Linked DNA regions of Homo sapiens. Changing the gene in region 1 together with any one later gene gives a genetic interaction. Each region holds a gene or a part of one and is shown on either strand. Other genes may lie near its edges.

What was found. Genes that interact genetically often act in the same process or in processes that back each other up.
Region 2: changes in ILK (region 1) and NPR2 together harm fitness less than expected from each alone (positive genetic interaction), as found in Homo sapiens cells (one large-scale study listed by BioGRID).
Region 3: changes in ILK (region 1) and GALK1 together harm fitness less than expected from each alone (positive genetic interaction), as found in Homo sapiens cells (one large-scale study listed by BioGRID).
Region 4: changes in ILK (region 1) and UCK2 together harm fitness less than expected from each alone (positive genetic interaction), as found in Homo sapiens cells (one large-scale study listed by BioGRID).

Annotation. Positions count from the first base shown.
Region 1 is NC_000011.10:6,606,774-6,609,071, reverse strand, and holds part of ILK (scaffold protein ILK), read right to left. Parts: exon of another isoform or gene 1,027-2,298; coding exon 861-1,026; exon of another isoform or gene 679-860; coding exon 583-678; exon of another isoform or gene 379-582; coding exon 282-378; exon of another isoform or gene 189-281; coding exon 105-188; exon of another isoform or gene 2-104; coding exon 1-1. UniProt on the Homo sapiens protein: Scaffold protein which mediates protein-protein interactions during a range of cellular events including focal adhesion assembly, cell adhesion and cell migration.
Region 2 is NC_000009.12:35,798,091-35,801,590, reverse strand, and holds part of NPR2 (atrial natriuretic peptide receptor 2 isoform 1 precursor), read right to left. Parts: intron 1,974-3,500; coding exon 1,860-1,973; intron 1,570-1,859; coding exon 1,434-1,569; intron 1,203-1,433; coding exon 1,108-1,202; intron 883-1,107; coding exon 750-882; exon of another isoform or gene 746-749; intron 522-745; coding exon 437-521; intron 1-436. UniProt on the Homo sapiens protein: Receptor for the C-type natriuretic peptide NPPC/CNP hormone. Has guanylate cyclase activity upon binding of its ligand. May play a role in the regulation of skeletal growth.
Region 3 is NC_000017.11:75,762,393-75,766,461, reverse strand, and holds the start of GALK1 (galactokinase), read left to right. Parts: upstream 1-1,269; 5' UTR 1,270-1,325; coding exon 1,326-1,490; intron 1,491-2,375; coding exon 2,376-2,565; intron 2,566-3,022; coding exon 3,023-3,142; intron 3,143-3,312; coding exon 3,313-3,448; intron 3,449-3,576; coding exon 3,577-3,758; intron 3,759-4,069. UniProt on the Homo sapiens protein: Catalyzes the transfer of a phosphate from ATP to alpha-D-galactose and participates in the first committed step in the catabolism of galactose.
Region 4 is NC_000001.11:165,907,614-165,909,865, reverse strand, and holds part of UCK2 (uridine-cytidine kinase 2), read right to left. Parts: intron 2,183-2,252; coding exon 2,043-2,182; 3' UTR 1-2,042. UniProt on the Homo sapiens protein: Phosphorylates uridine and cytidine to uridine monophosphate and cytidine monophosphate. Does not phosphorylate deoxyribonucleosides or purine ribonucleosides. Can use ATP or GTP as a phosphate donor.

The DNA.
Region 1 (2,298 bases):
CCTAAGAGTGTGGGCAGGTCAGGTACCCAGCTTCACCCTAACCCAGCCCCAAGAGGCCAGGATTATTTCCTTTTACAACCCTTCTTCCCACAGTGGTGACTCACGGGGCCGAGTGCGGGTGGTCCCCTTCCAGAATGTGTCCTTGTATGGAATACGGTTGAGATTCTGGCCCATCTTCTCTGCCCGCTCTAGGGAAGAAAAACAACCTAAGCTGTGGTACAGAGGGAGAAGACAGGTGGGAAGGGACGAGAGGACACAAGCTAGGGGATGGGGAGATGGACCTCGGAGAAGCTCTCTCAGGGGTGCCTTGGCTTTGTCCACAGGCATCTCTCCATACTTGTTACAGATGCTGACAAGGGCCCCATTTGCCACCAGGTCCTGGAATGAAAAGGCCATTATGATGAGAGCCACTGCTACCTCGCTGGCAGTCACTGAACCAACCATGAATGCACAAATGTAGAACTTAATCCTGTAAGTGTCACACAGTAGTACTGACAGAATGGGTTGAGGGTTCCAAAATCTCCCACCAAGGCTCAGACTTTACTTCCTACCCATCTCAGGAATTAAGGGCTGAGTACTCACCTCTGCCACTTGATCTTGGCCCCAAAAACAGGCATAGTGCAGGGGCACATTCCCGTGTTCATTCACTGCATTGATGTCTGCCTTGTACTGCAATAGCTGGACCCCATGGCCAGACAAAAAGAAGAGGCAGAAAGTACAGTCAGTTCCAAATGAGATACTGGTGTCAGGGCATGGGAAAAGGGGGAAGAGCACACATGCTTTCTACTGTATGTTACAGTGCCTGTGACTGACCCTCATGGCATGTATGTGATGTGGATGACGAAGGAGTTTGTACGTACCTTCTGTACAATATCACGGTGTCCATGACTGGCTGCCAGATGCAGGGGGGTGTCATCCCCACGGTTCATTACATTGATCCGTGCCCCCCGCATGATCAACATCTCAACCACAGCAGAGCGGCCCTCTCGGCAGGCCCAGTGCAAGGGGGAGAAGCCATGATCGTCCCTTTGAGGAAGGGGCAATGGTCATTGAGCTGGAGGTGGGATGGGGCAAAGGTTTTGATTCCTGAAAAACTGATAATTACATACTCTCTGGGAAGGCTTACCTCTCTAGGACTTTGATTCTCATTCATGCCAGCAACTCCCAAAGCTGTCCATTTCAGACCTTCCCCTGAGCTTCAAACCAAACCAACCACCTAGATATCTCAACAACCTCTATAAAAAAATGTGTTATCTTCACCATATCCCACATCTCATTTCCTTAGGTGGTAGTGCTCTTCCCCTGGTTTCTCTTGCACCCCTTCTGCAACATCTATTGGTCCTTTCTGTTTTCCACCACATCTTATATGTCCCCCTACTTCAGCACTTGTTGCACTGGATTGTAAAAATCTGTTAATGGACTGTCTTGTCTGTTAGACCTTTAAGTTTCTTGAGGGAATGGATTGACAGCAGCTGTTCAGTGCATGTTAGTGGGGGAGAAGGGTGTCTTGGAGAAGGCAGGCCACAACTTATAGAAGAGGGAACAAACTTACTATTTGGCTCTGGTACTGAAACTAACATCTAAAAATGGAATGGAATTTAAATGATGTTTTGGAAGGGTTTATGTTGAAAAGGAGAAATGCTTTTGACTACTGATGAGGTAGATAACAAACCACCATGCAAAGCAGGATTCCCCTACTTAGCAATCCTGTGCATAGAAAACAGAAGAAAATGAGAATGGCTGTTTTGGGATTAAAACTATACCTGATTTTTTTCTTTTCCAAGAAATATGTATTTTATAAAGTAAAGTATACAAACAAAACAAAACAATTGGTTTGGAGCTGGGCCTGCCTGACAGCCTGGGGCCATAAAAGGAAATTCCCTCCAGTTCGGGGCTGCAGATTCAAGGGGCGGAGCAGGGGGCGGTCCGTGGTCTGGGCCAGCAGCCTCCGGATGCCTTAGTGTTGTGGTCACTTCCTGTGTGCGACTCTAGGCAAGGCCTGGAGCTGATCAGGGGTCTGGCCATCCAGATGCCCGTACAGCTGAAGGGGTTGGGGGGTGTGGCCTTTAAGTTAATCATTTTCCTCCACAACTTGCTCGCATCTGCTAACACAGAAATAGCCAAAAGCTTTTCCTTGAGATGGGATTATCCCCAGGAAGCATTACGCCCCCTGTTTATCAGTTGGTCTTGCCTCCTAGACCTTTAATTTGTGCCCTGACTTATCAGCTTCCAGTACTGCCTGTGGCGCCAGGGCAGGCCAAACTCGGGGGGCAAAAGTATGGGCACAAGGGTTCTGTT
Region 2 (3,500 bases), on another chromosome or scaffold:
AAGCCAACAGCAGGGTTGCAGGGGCTTCCCTGCAGCTCCTGAAGCTGCAACTGTTACACCTGAGAGACAGGGCTGGAAGATAAGGCTGCATTCTCGGCATATCTGGCACATGCCCTATGCTCACTAACAAACACAGAGACTGGGGGTGAAAGTTCTTTCCTAAAAGAAGACCAATGGAAAATTCACCTTTGATCTTAACCCCACTGAAAAACACTAGTTAGTATATCCAGTCTAGGACCAAAAGTGGAACAAACACCTAGGCTAAGCGACAACTAAAGAGAAAGGCTAGAGAGGAAGACGCTGTTGGATCTAAGAGACAACCAGCAAATTAAGAAACCTACTACCCTATCCCACATTATAGGGACCACCTGGCTTCAGCCAGAGGTTGTGTGGCAATGGGGGCAGGGAGTAGGTCAGCAAGAAACCCAGAACTCACCGGAAAATTAGGAAGCTGGAAACACCAAACATGATGAAGGTGATTCCTGTGCCCAGAGCCACAATTGCCAGGGTTGAAAGTGGAGCTGAAGGGGAAATAGAGACCCTGAGGAAGACTGTGTGCGGACTTGGCAGAATGGAGAACGGGGTGCATAGGTGCATAGACAGACTCCTTGGGAGTAGGAAGAAATGAGGAGGGAGGGATGCAGACGTAAAGGCAGAAGCACAGTTAAGAGTGGAGGGTCAGTGAGGGTGGAGGCCATGAATGGAAAGCAAAGGGAGGAAAGCTGCTCCCAGTCCCTGCACACACCCACTTTTATCACAGGATGGGTCGTCCAAGTCAAAGGCACAGGGGGGATTGTCCGAGGGAGGAGCCCCCTTCACCCAGGGAATAGGCCGTCCCGTCCACCAAATCTGCTTCTCAGCTCCCGAGTAGTGGGCTGCAGGCTGTAAGGAAGCAAAAAGCTGGGCCCACAGGCCTGCTCCCACCAGCCTCCTCCCCAGACCCCAGCTGTTTCGCTGCTTTTCTCCCCAGCCTACCACCCAGCCAGGATGCAGTGCCAGCAGAGAAAACAAATCCCTCATCTAGTAGTTTTGGTTCTGCCCCGACTGAACCCTTGAAAGCTGGATTTTGCAGGGCCACACTCTCTTCCCTGCCTCCTCCTCCATCACCTGAAAGTCCCCAGAATCCAGGTCTCCCATGGCCCAGAGGACAAAGTCAGTCTCTCGGTCATTGTTCTTGTCCATGACAACCAGCCCAGTTACACCTAAGACAGAAAAGAGTGTCCTTTCTTTGAGGTCTACCCTGGGCTCCTCTCCCACTCACTCATGCCTACGGCTCCCTCAGAGTCTACCCTTCCCCGATCTTGAGGTGTGGGCAACTCTGCCATATTCACTAACCCCCACTAAAGCTGTGGTGATCCTGACATCTGTTTCTTCTTCAGCCCACTCTATTCCTGACATCAGCCCTCAGACCCCCATTGACCCCTCTTCATTACCGTGATATCTTCGTCCCTGCATCTTTTCCACAATTCGAAGTCCATCCTCCCGGGTGCCTCCTTCCTGTATTGTCTCATTCAGGACTTCAGCATATAGCAGGATCCCATCATAGAAGCAGCCAGCGATGAGGTTCATCTGGGGGTGGCAACTTCAGCAGTACTCTCCAAATGTCCTGCAAGGCCCCTTCCCCTCTCTCTGGGGTCTCCCTTCTACCTATTCTCTCTTCTGGTTTGCTTTCTTCCCTCTTATTCCTAAAGTGCCATCCCTTCCTAACTACTCCATAGGGCAGAAGGAAAAATCCTGGACAGAAGCGGAGACCCCCCAAAGTTGGGCTTGCTCCACAGCCAAGACTTGATGCTGAGTTTGGGAGAGAAGCCCTTCCCCAAAGCTTGACCTGACTCTCAGGAAGGGAGAGATCTACTTACCAGGGAAGGGCCCAGCTCCACACCAAAGTCTTCCCGGGCTCTTATCAGCAGACGATTCTGGAATTCCTGATACTCAGGATTTGGGGGTTCTCGGTACGTGATCACCAATACAGTCTGTACCAGCAGCATATGGGGAAGAGTGAACAGGATTCAAGATAGGCATTATGGGAAGAGAAGATGCAGGACAGGGAAACTTGGTAAAATATACATGATATAAAATATACACAGGTGAGTCTGAAGGCTTTGAAAGGGCTACTAACCTCTCTCTCTCTGCGTGTGTGTGTGCGTGTGTGTGTGTGTGTGTGTGTGTGTGTTGTGTTGCATACATCTGGGAAGAGGGAGTGGCACTCCTCCTGAAAGGTAGATAGGACTGGTTCTGGGAAGGTGGAAACTGGCAAATAATAGTCAACCCCATCCCCAAAGCCCAGCCCAACATCTTCCAGAGCTCCCTTCCAGCATCCAGGTTCCTGCCAGGCCACCACAGCTCACACGGCTCCTCTGTCCCATGCTTTCTGGGTATCTGCTTATGATCAAGGACAACACCCACTAACAGCTCCTCTCTGAGATGTTAATCACTGTTAATGTCATCAGTAAAATACTAACATTGTCATTTCGGCCACTTGAACACAGTGTCTCCGCCCAGTGAATTAGAGAGATTTCAGGCCCTATGACAACTGAGGGAAATACTTTGAGACAGTGATTCCACCTGTGAAAAGCTGTGTGCTCATCCATTTAATGTGTGGAACACCTACCACAAACAGCACTGTCCTGCTTACTGAGTAATAGATGTGTCACAGGGACAAACACACAGTCACATGCCCACACACATTTCACAGGTAAGCAAATGACACATGTGATCTCAGACATGCACACATCTCACTGGCGCATGAGTCAGCATCTCTGTCTCTCACCAAAGTGCCTGCTTGGCTCCCATTAGTCTCACACATTTCCCCTTCCTGAGCTGCTGGACCTCCCAGTCTCAGGCCCTGCCTCAGGCCACATAGTCACTGAGACCAACTTCTGCTCCAACAGGAAACTGGCATCACAACTTCAAGGAAAGACTTCAGTTCAATATATTTTATGAAACATGACTTTGTGAAATGATAATTTAAAATCCGGTCATTTCTCCCAGTTTTGTTTATTCTTGTCATAGAAAGTACATGTGGACCATAGAGATACGCTGCACTAGACACATCACATATGGCCTATTATGTATCAATTCATTAGAGATAGGAAATAATAAAGTCGATTTCTAATATGCATTCATTATATTATATTAGACTGCAGCTTGCCTCAAGATATCATTATTCTTACTAGAGCATTTAGCTGCCTGATTACACACTTCTAACATTCTCCCAGTCTCAGGTAAAATTTTTTTAAAAAGAGAAGGGAATTGAGGAAAGGGTTGAAATAGTTCATTCAGTAGCACCTGTTCCAAGAATAAAATAAAGAGGTAGAATATTGTTGACAAGCAATGTAAAAAGTCAGGAAAAGGGCGAGAAAAGATCAGGTTCAACACAATTTATATTTCAATAAAGGCTGATGATAGGTTTTTAACACATTTTAAACACTAATTCTCAACACTAAGTTTGGCTAGTTTGTTAGGCTAGCAGTTATCAAACTTTTGGTCTCACAATCGCT
Region 3 (4,069 bases), on another chromosome or scaffold:
AGAGTTTTCAGAATTGCCCTTGGAATGCAGTTCCCCACTCTTTGGGCACACCCCTGAGCAGGCCCCAAGCTAAATCCCTGGCCATAACTCCCCACACTACTCCCACCCTAACCCCAAGCAAGCTGCTTACATTTCAGTCTTTCAGTTTCAAGGTTCCATGTAGGGTGGGCAGCTGTGGACAGGTATCAAGGCAGCAGTTGGGGCCGGCCAGCAGGTTTAGGATGCAGGATAGCAAGAGAAGAGTGCCTGACTGGGAACAAGGCCACGCCTCTGAGACAAGGGCTTCTGGGCTGAAGTAGTGCCTGCTGGGGCCAACAGCACAACCTACCTGGACAGCTGTGGCAGGTCCTTAAGGGAGGGGCTGGGCCCACTGCTGGCCACCGCCACCCTAGTCCAATTCTCCATTGCTAGGAGCTGTTGCGTATTACCTAGAAAAGGAGCTTGTAAAATTGACTCTCTGGTCACCACCAAACTTGTCTTTTTTTTTTTTGAGACAGAGTTTTGCTCTTGTTGCCCAGGCTGGAGTGCAATGGTGTGATCTCAGCTCACCGAAACCTCCGCCTCCCAGGTTCAAGTGATTCTCCTGCCTCAGCCTCCCGAGTAGCTGGGATTACAGGCATGAGCCACCATGCCCAGCTAATTTTGTATTTTTTAGTAGAGATGGGGTTTCTCCATGTTGGTCAGGCTGGTCTCCAACTCCCGACCTCAGGTGATCTGCACACCTCGGCCTCCCAAAGTGCTGGGATTACAGGCGTGAGCCACTGCGCCCGGCCCAAACTTGTCTGTCTTTATCTCTACTTACAGTGAGTGTCAGGTCACCCTCTTGGAGACCGGTGATCAGAGGCTGATGACCTCTCACAGCTGCTGGCCCTGGGGACCTAGGGGATCCCTTTGGGAATCCCAGGTCAACCGGGTGCCAGCTCCATTGCTCTGGCTGTGTGGGTGGTGGTGGGTGGTGAGGCACATAGAAAGTCACCAGCGCCAGGGAAGGGCAGCTCAGAAATCCTGGTCATGCCAAGTGCCACTCAGGGCTATTCTCACTCTAGTGAGTGCTCATTGGTTCTTCCCGAAGTCCAGAGGGAAGGACACCATCGGGGGCGCTGTATCCCACCCGGCACCATTAGCCCCTGCCACCCACCACCCAGCAGCTGGATTCCCACGGGAGTTGCGGGTGGGGGCGGAACCGGCTGAGGTCTGGGGGCGGGGCGTCCGGGCGCGGGGCGGGGCTGGCGGGAATGTGCGCACCCCCGCGCGGGGCCCCGCCCGAGCATCCCGCGCCGACGGGGCTGTGCCGGAGCAGCTGTGCAGAGCTGCAGGCGCGCGTCATGGCTGCTTTGAGACAGCCCCAGGTCGCGGAGCTGCTGGCCGAGGCCCGGCGAGCCTTCCGGGAGGAGTTCGGGGCCGAGCCCGAGCTGGCCGTGTCAGCGCCGGGCCGCGTCAACCTCATCGGGGAACACACGGACTACAACCAGGGCCTGGTGCTGCCTATGGTGAGGGGCTGCACGGGGAGCCCCTAGCCCGCCGCCGCCTGTCCCGGCCGCCGAGGAGGGCGGGCCTCGGGGACGCTGGGGGCGAGTTCTTCCCGCGGGAGATGTGGGGCGGGCAGCTGCGCCTGGAGCACCGGTGCACGGAAGAGTCCCCGGGACAGGCTGTTCCCCACGTTGGAAGGGAGGAAGCGAGGAAGTGGCCGGGAGAGGGTGCGCGGCCGCCTCTTGGCTCAAGCCCGCCCTCTGGGGGCTGGGGCTCCTCGCCTTCAACCTGGGAGCATGTTCCCCTTAAACTGTGAGGCCCTGTGTGCCACGCAGAAGGGGACACTCCGCGCCTCCGGCCACCGTGGGGCCCCAACCGCAGACCTGGGCGAACGTAGCCTTCTGGCCCAGCCCGTTCAATTTACAGAGGAGGAAACTGAGGCCTAGAGAGGCCCAGTGAACTGCTGGAGGTCACACAGCAGGTTCTTGGCGGGGCTGCGACTTGGGAGTGAGGACTCCCAGCTTTCAGCGGGGGGCGCTTTCCGCCCCATCTGCAGCTTGGGGAGTGCACAGGTACAGGATGTCCAGAGCCACCCCAAAATGTAAAGGCTTTGGAGCTCCAGTGATCTGTTTTCCCTTTGGGCTAGCTCTCCCCCTTGCCCCACAGCTCAGGGCAGAGTCCAGGTCTGTGCTCCAGCTGCAGCCGCCCCGCCCCTGAAGACCTAAGGGGGCAGGGCTCAAGCCCCCAAGGTCAGCTGGCCCTCAGGATCTTCCCTGCGACGCTGAACCTGGAGGTTCAGAACCTGATGACTGTGGAGGCATCAGAACCTCGGCTGGAGGCAGTGTCATTGGAGAGGCTTACTCCAGCTGGCGGAAGCCTCACGTACTGCTTGTCTCTCCTGCCAGGCTCTGGAGCTCATGACGGTGCTGGTGGGCAGCCCCCGCAAGGATGGGCTGGTGTCTCTCCTCACCACCTCTGAGGGTGCCGATGAGCCCCAGCGGCTGCAGTTTCCACTGCCCACAGCCCAGCGCTCGCTGGAGCCTGGGACTCCTCGGTGGGCCAACTATGTCAAGGGAGTGATTCAGTACTACCCAGGTATGGGGCCCAGGCCTGAGCCAAGTCCTCACTGATACTAGGAGTGCCACCTCACAGCCACAGAGCCCATTCATTTGTCTGATACACTGTGGGGAAGGCTTGTAGAGTGGAGCATCCCATTGTACAGATGAGGAAACTGATGCCCCCAGAAGGTCGGGAACTTGCCCTGGGTTTCCCGTGACCTGATTGGAGGAGCCAGGATTTGAACCCCAGCCTTTTTTCCCTCCAGAGCCCTAAACCAGGAGGACAATTAGAAGTGTCCCAGCAACCTCAGAGGGTGGGAAAATGGAGGGCAGTGGGTCCCTTGGCCCAGCAGGTTGGTGGCTTCTGACAATTGAGACACACACCCTAGAAACAGCTGCTAGGCCGTTGCTGCCCTTCCCGCCAGGACACCTGCCCTTCCTGTGCCATCCTCCCAGGCAGCCCCTCTTACCATCACCTGTTCTTTCCCCTGCAGCTGCCCCCCTCCCTGGCTTCAGTGCAGTGGTGGTCAGCTCAGTGCCCCTGGGGGGTGGCCTGTCCAGCTCAGCATCCTTGGAAGTGGCCACGTACACCTTCCTCCAGCAGCTCTGTCCAGGTACCAGCTAGGCCCCAGCCCTGACCCAGCCCTCCTTCCCTGAGGTCTCCAGGTGGTCCCAGCTTCTACTATGCCTTATGGAGGGGGTGGCAGGGACTCTCCCTGGAGTGTCATTGAAGCCACTGCTGCTTCCACCAGCCCTAGCCTCCCCACCTCACCCTGTACTGCAGACTCGGGCACAATAGCTGCCCGCGCCCAGGTGTGTCAGCAGGCCGAGCACAGCTTCGCAGGGATGCCCTGTGGCATCATGGACCAGTTCATCTCACTTATGGGACAGAAAGGCCACGCGCTGCTCATTGACTGCAGGTTGGGCTCGCTCCCCTCGTCCCCTCCCGCCCTGCACTCAGCAGCTCCTGGGTGGGAGTGTGCCCACTGCCTGGCGCAGCAAGCACACGCTTGGCCTCGTCATCTCCCCCATTGTAACTCCACCCCAGGTCCTTGGAGACCAGCCTGGTGCCACTCTCGGACCCCAAGCTGGCCGTGCTCATCACCAACTCTAATGTCCGCCACTCCCTGGCCTCCAGCGAGTACCCTGTGCGGCGGCGCCAATGTGAAGAAGTGGCCCGGGCGCTGGGCAAGGAAAGCCTCCGGGAGGTACAACTGGAAGAGCTAGAGGGTGAGAACTGCCAGGGTGCTCTATCCTGGAGGCGGCTGTGCTCCCTGCTGGCGCCTCAGTGTGGCCTTGACCCTGCCTGGGACCCCGATCTCCAGGGCCTTCTGCCATGCTCTCCCCAGTCCCTTCAAACACTGCGCACCCAGGGTTCCAATCTCAGCAGGGCTGCTTGAAATCCTAAAATGGTCTTATCTAATCAGAAAAATCATGTTTCCATTGTGGAAAATGTAGAAAAGTACAAAGTAGAAAATAATAAGCTATAAGGCCACTACCCAGAGATAGCCACTGCTGACATTTTCACGTTTCCTTTCAGT
Region 4 (2,252 bases), on another chromosome or scaffold:
CCAAGGCTCTCCCAGACACGGGTGGGCTTCACCTGAGCACAGCCCAGTGCCATCAAGGCCAGGGGCCCTGTGTCCTCAGGATACTAACCCAGGCCTGCATTCCCTGCTTCATCTCAGAACTGATCAAGGCATGACTACAAGGATAATGATTGATCCTGAACTGATCTTGGTGAGCACCGGCTTTCAAAGGAGGCATCTTGGGAGCCTTCCCTTGCTCCAAGTAGGCGGCTGCTGTGACTGGGAGCTCCCTTCAGAGCCTGCACGGTCTCCTGAAAGTCTCCGGGTGGCAAGCTCTGCTGGGGACCAGGTTTGACTTTTTAAAATAGCAAAACAGATTTAGAGTCAAACTGAGCCCAGAAACGGGGAATCAGACTGGATGGTGCTGAGTCTGGGGGAAAATCTGGTGTGACCAGGTAATAATGGAGACCAATTTACCTGAATGGCTCGAACAGGCTCTGAGAGCAATGGGAAGAAAAGGTTCTCCAAAATGTTTCTGGCAATGGCAGCCACAGTGGGATAGCTAAGGGCACAGTCCACCAAGCACTAGGGTGGTCAACAATGAAATGAACATCTCTGGCTCTTCTGCAGTCAGAAACTGAGGCTCGGGACTCTATAATCAGAACTCCTTCAGGCTCACTTGGGCTCCCCTCCACCCAGAATGTCAGGAATCTGTACTTCCAGAGAAAACACTACCACCAAGCAGCAGCTCTCAGGAAAGCTAGAAATCTCCACCCCAAATATTTCAACCTCAGGCTCCAACTTAGGTACCTATGATTTAAATACTCTCCTTTTAAATACTTTGTAAAAACTGCTTTTCCGAGCCCCTTTTATGCTCTGCAGTTGCCATATCCACTAGGTGGTATTGCAAATAAGTAAAGCATCCTGGCCATGACGCTGCTAGTGAGAATCCCTGACCAAAGTTACTCTCCTCACCTCACTGCAAACCTCCAGGAAGCGGAAACTACTACCCCTCCACAGACAGAGCTCCCCTGCCACTCCATGAGGCGCTGCTGCCGGCATCAGTTACCGAAGCCCTCACCCACACCCAGCCTGCAATGGTCCACTCTATATTCCACAATACAGGAAAAAGCCCAAGGAGTCAGATCAGTTACGCCCCTGGGATGCAGAAAGAACCAGTGATTCTTCAGATATGACAGCAGGCAAAGTTCTGCCCTCTCCTTCCCATCTTCTATCAGGAAGCGATCCCATAAAATCTCTTCCAGGGAAGGAAAGAGGCAGCTCTGGCTTCTTGGAGAGACAGAGAAGCAGGAGGGTGAGGAAGGAGTCACCAAGCTATCCAAGCAGCCAGAGGCGAGAAGGTGGGAGCAGGGCAGGAAGAAAATGCAGAAGACTTGTTCTCCTCAGTGGGCCTCTTCCCTGAGTTTGATTTTTGAGTTGAGATTTTACCTAATTTCAACTCAAAAAAAAAAAAGAAAAGAAAAAAAAAAAAGACAAGAGTATCTCTCATTGACATATCACTAAGCTCCAGCTCCAAGAGTGGCATGTGACAGAGGAGGCAATCAAGGTTTTCCAACCCCATTCCCATCAAGTTCCACGGGGCACTCAAAAGCAACTGGACCTTAGCCACCCTCCCTGTCTCTCACAGATGCCCGAGCCTCCCCACCCTGGGACACAACAGGCAATTTCCCCTTGGTGAAATTCCAGCTCCAGTCCTAAAACACTCAAGTACAGACCCTCCTGCAAAATACTTATGGCAAACAGCTTTACAGTATTTGTACATTTACACAAAAATAGATCCTTTTTTATATATATATGTATTTATAACTGGTTACACGTTGGATTCATAATTAGGCATCACCAGTAGTAGTTGGCACAGTTTTGTTATTTAAGCTCAGGGTCAAGTTCTGTTTCATTTTGTCGTTCCAAAGTACAAAAAGAAAAAAAAAATCAAAGGCATTTCATCTCCATGGTGTTTTCTTAAATACAGTAATGTCATAGGAAACAGTATGTACAGATGAGCAGTGCCTCCTGACCCCTCCTCTGTCTCTTGGAGATAGGGGCTGGGGTCCGATGGAGACGGGTCAATGCGGCCTGCTGCTGGACTCCGATGCCTGCCTCTTGCGTGAAGGGGTGTAGCCGTTGAGACAGCCATTGGTCTGCCGTTTGGAGGGCCCTCCATTCAGGATGTCCTGGATGTGCTGCACGATGAGGTTGATGGCCACTGTGGGGCAGAGACCAGCAGAGCGTTACGGGTGCAGGCATGGGTGCAGGGGTGAGTGTGGGAGTCTGTC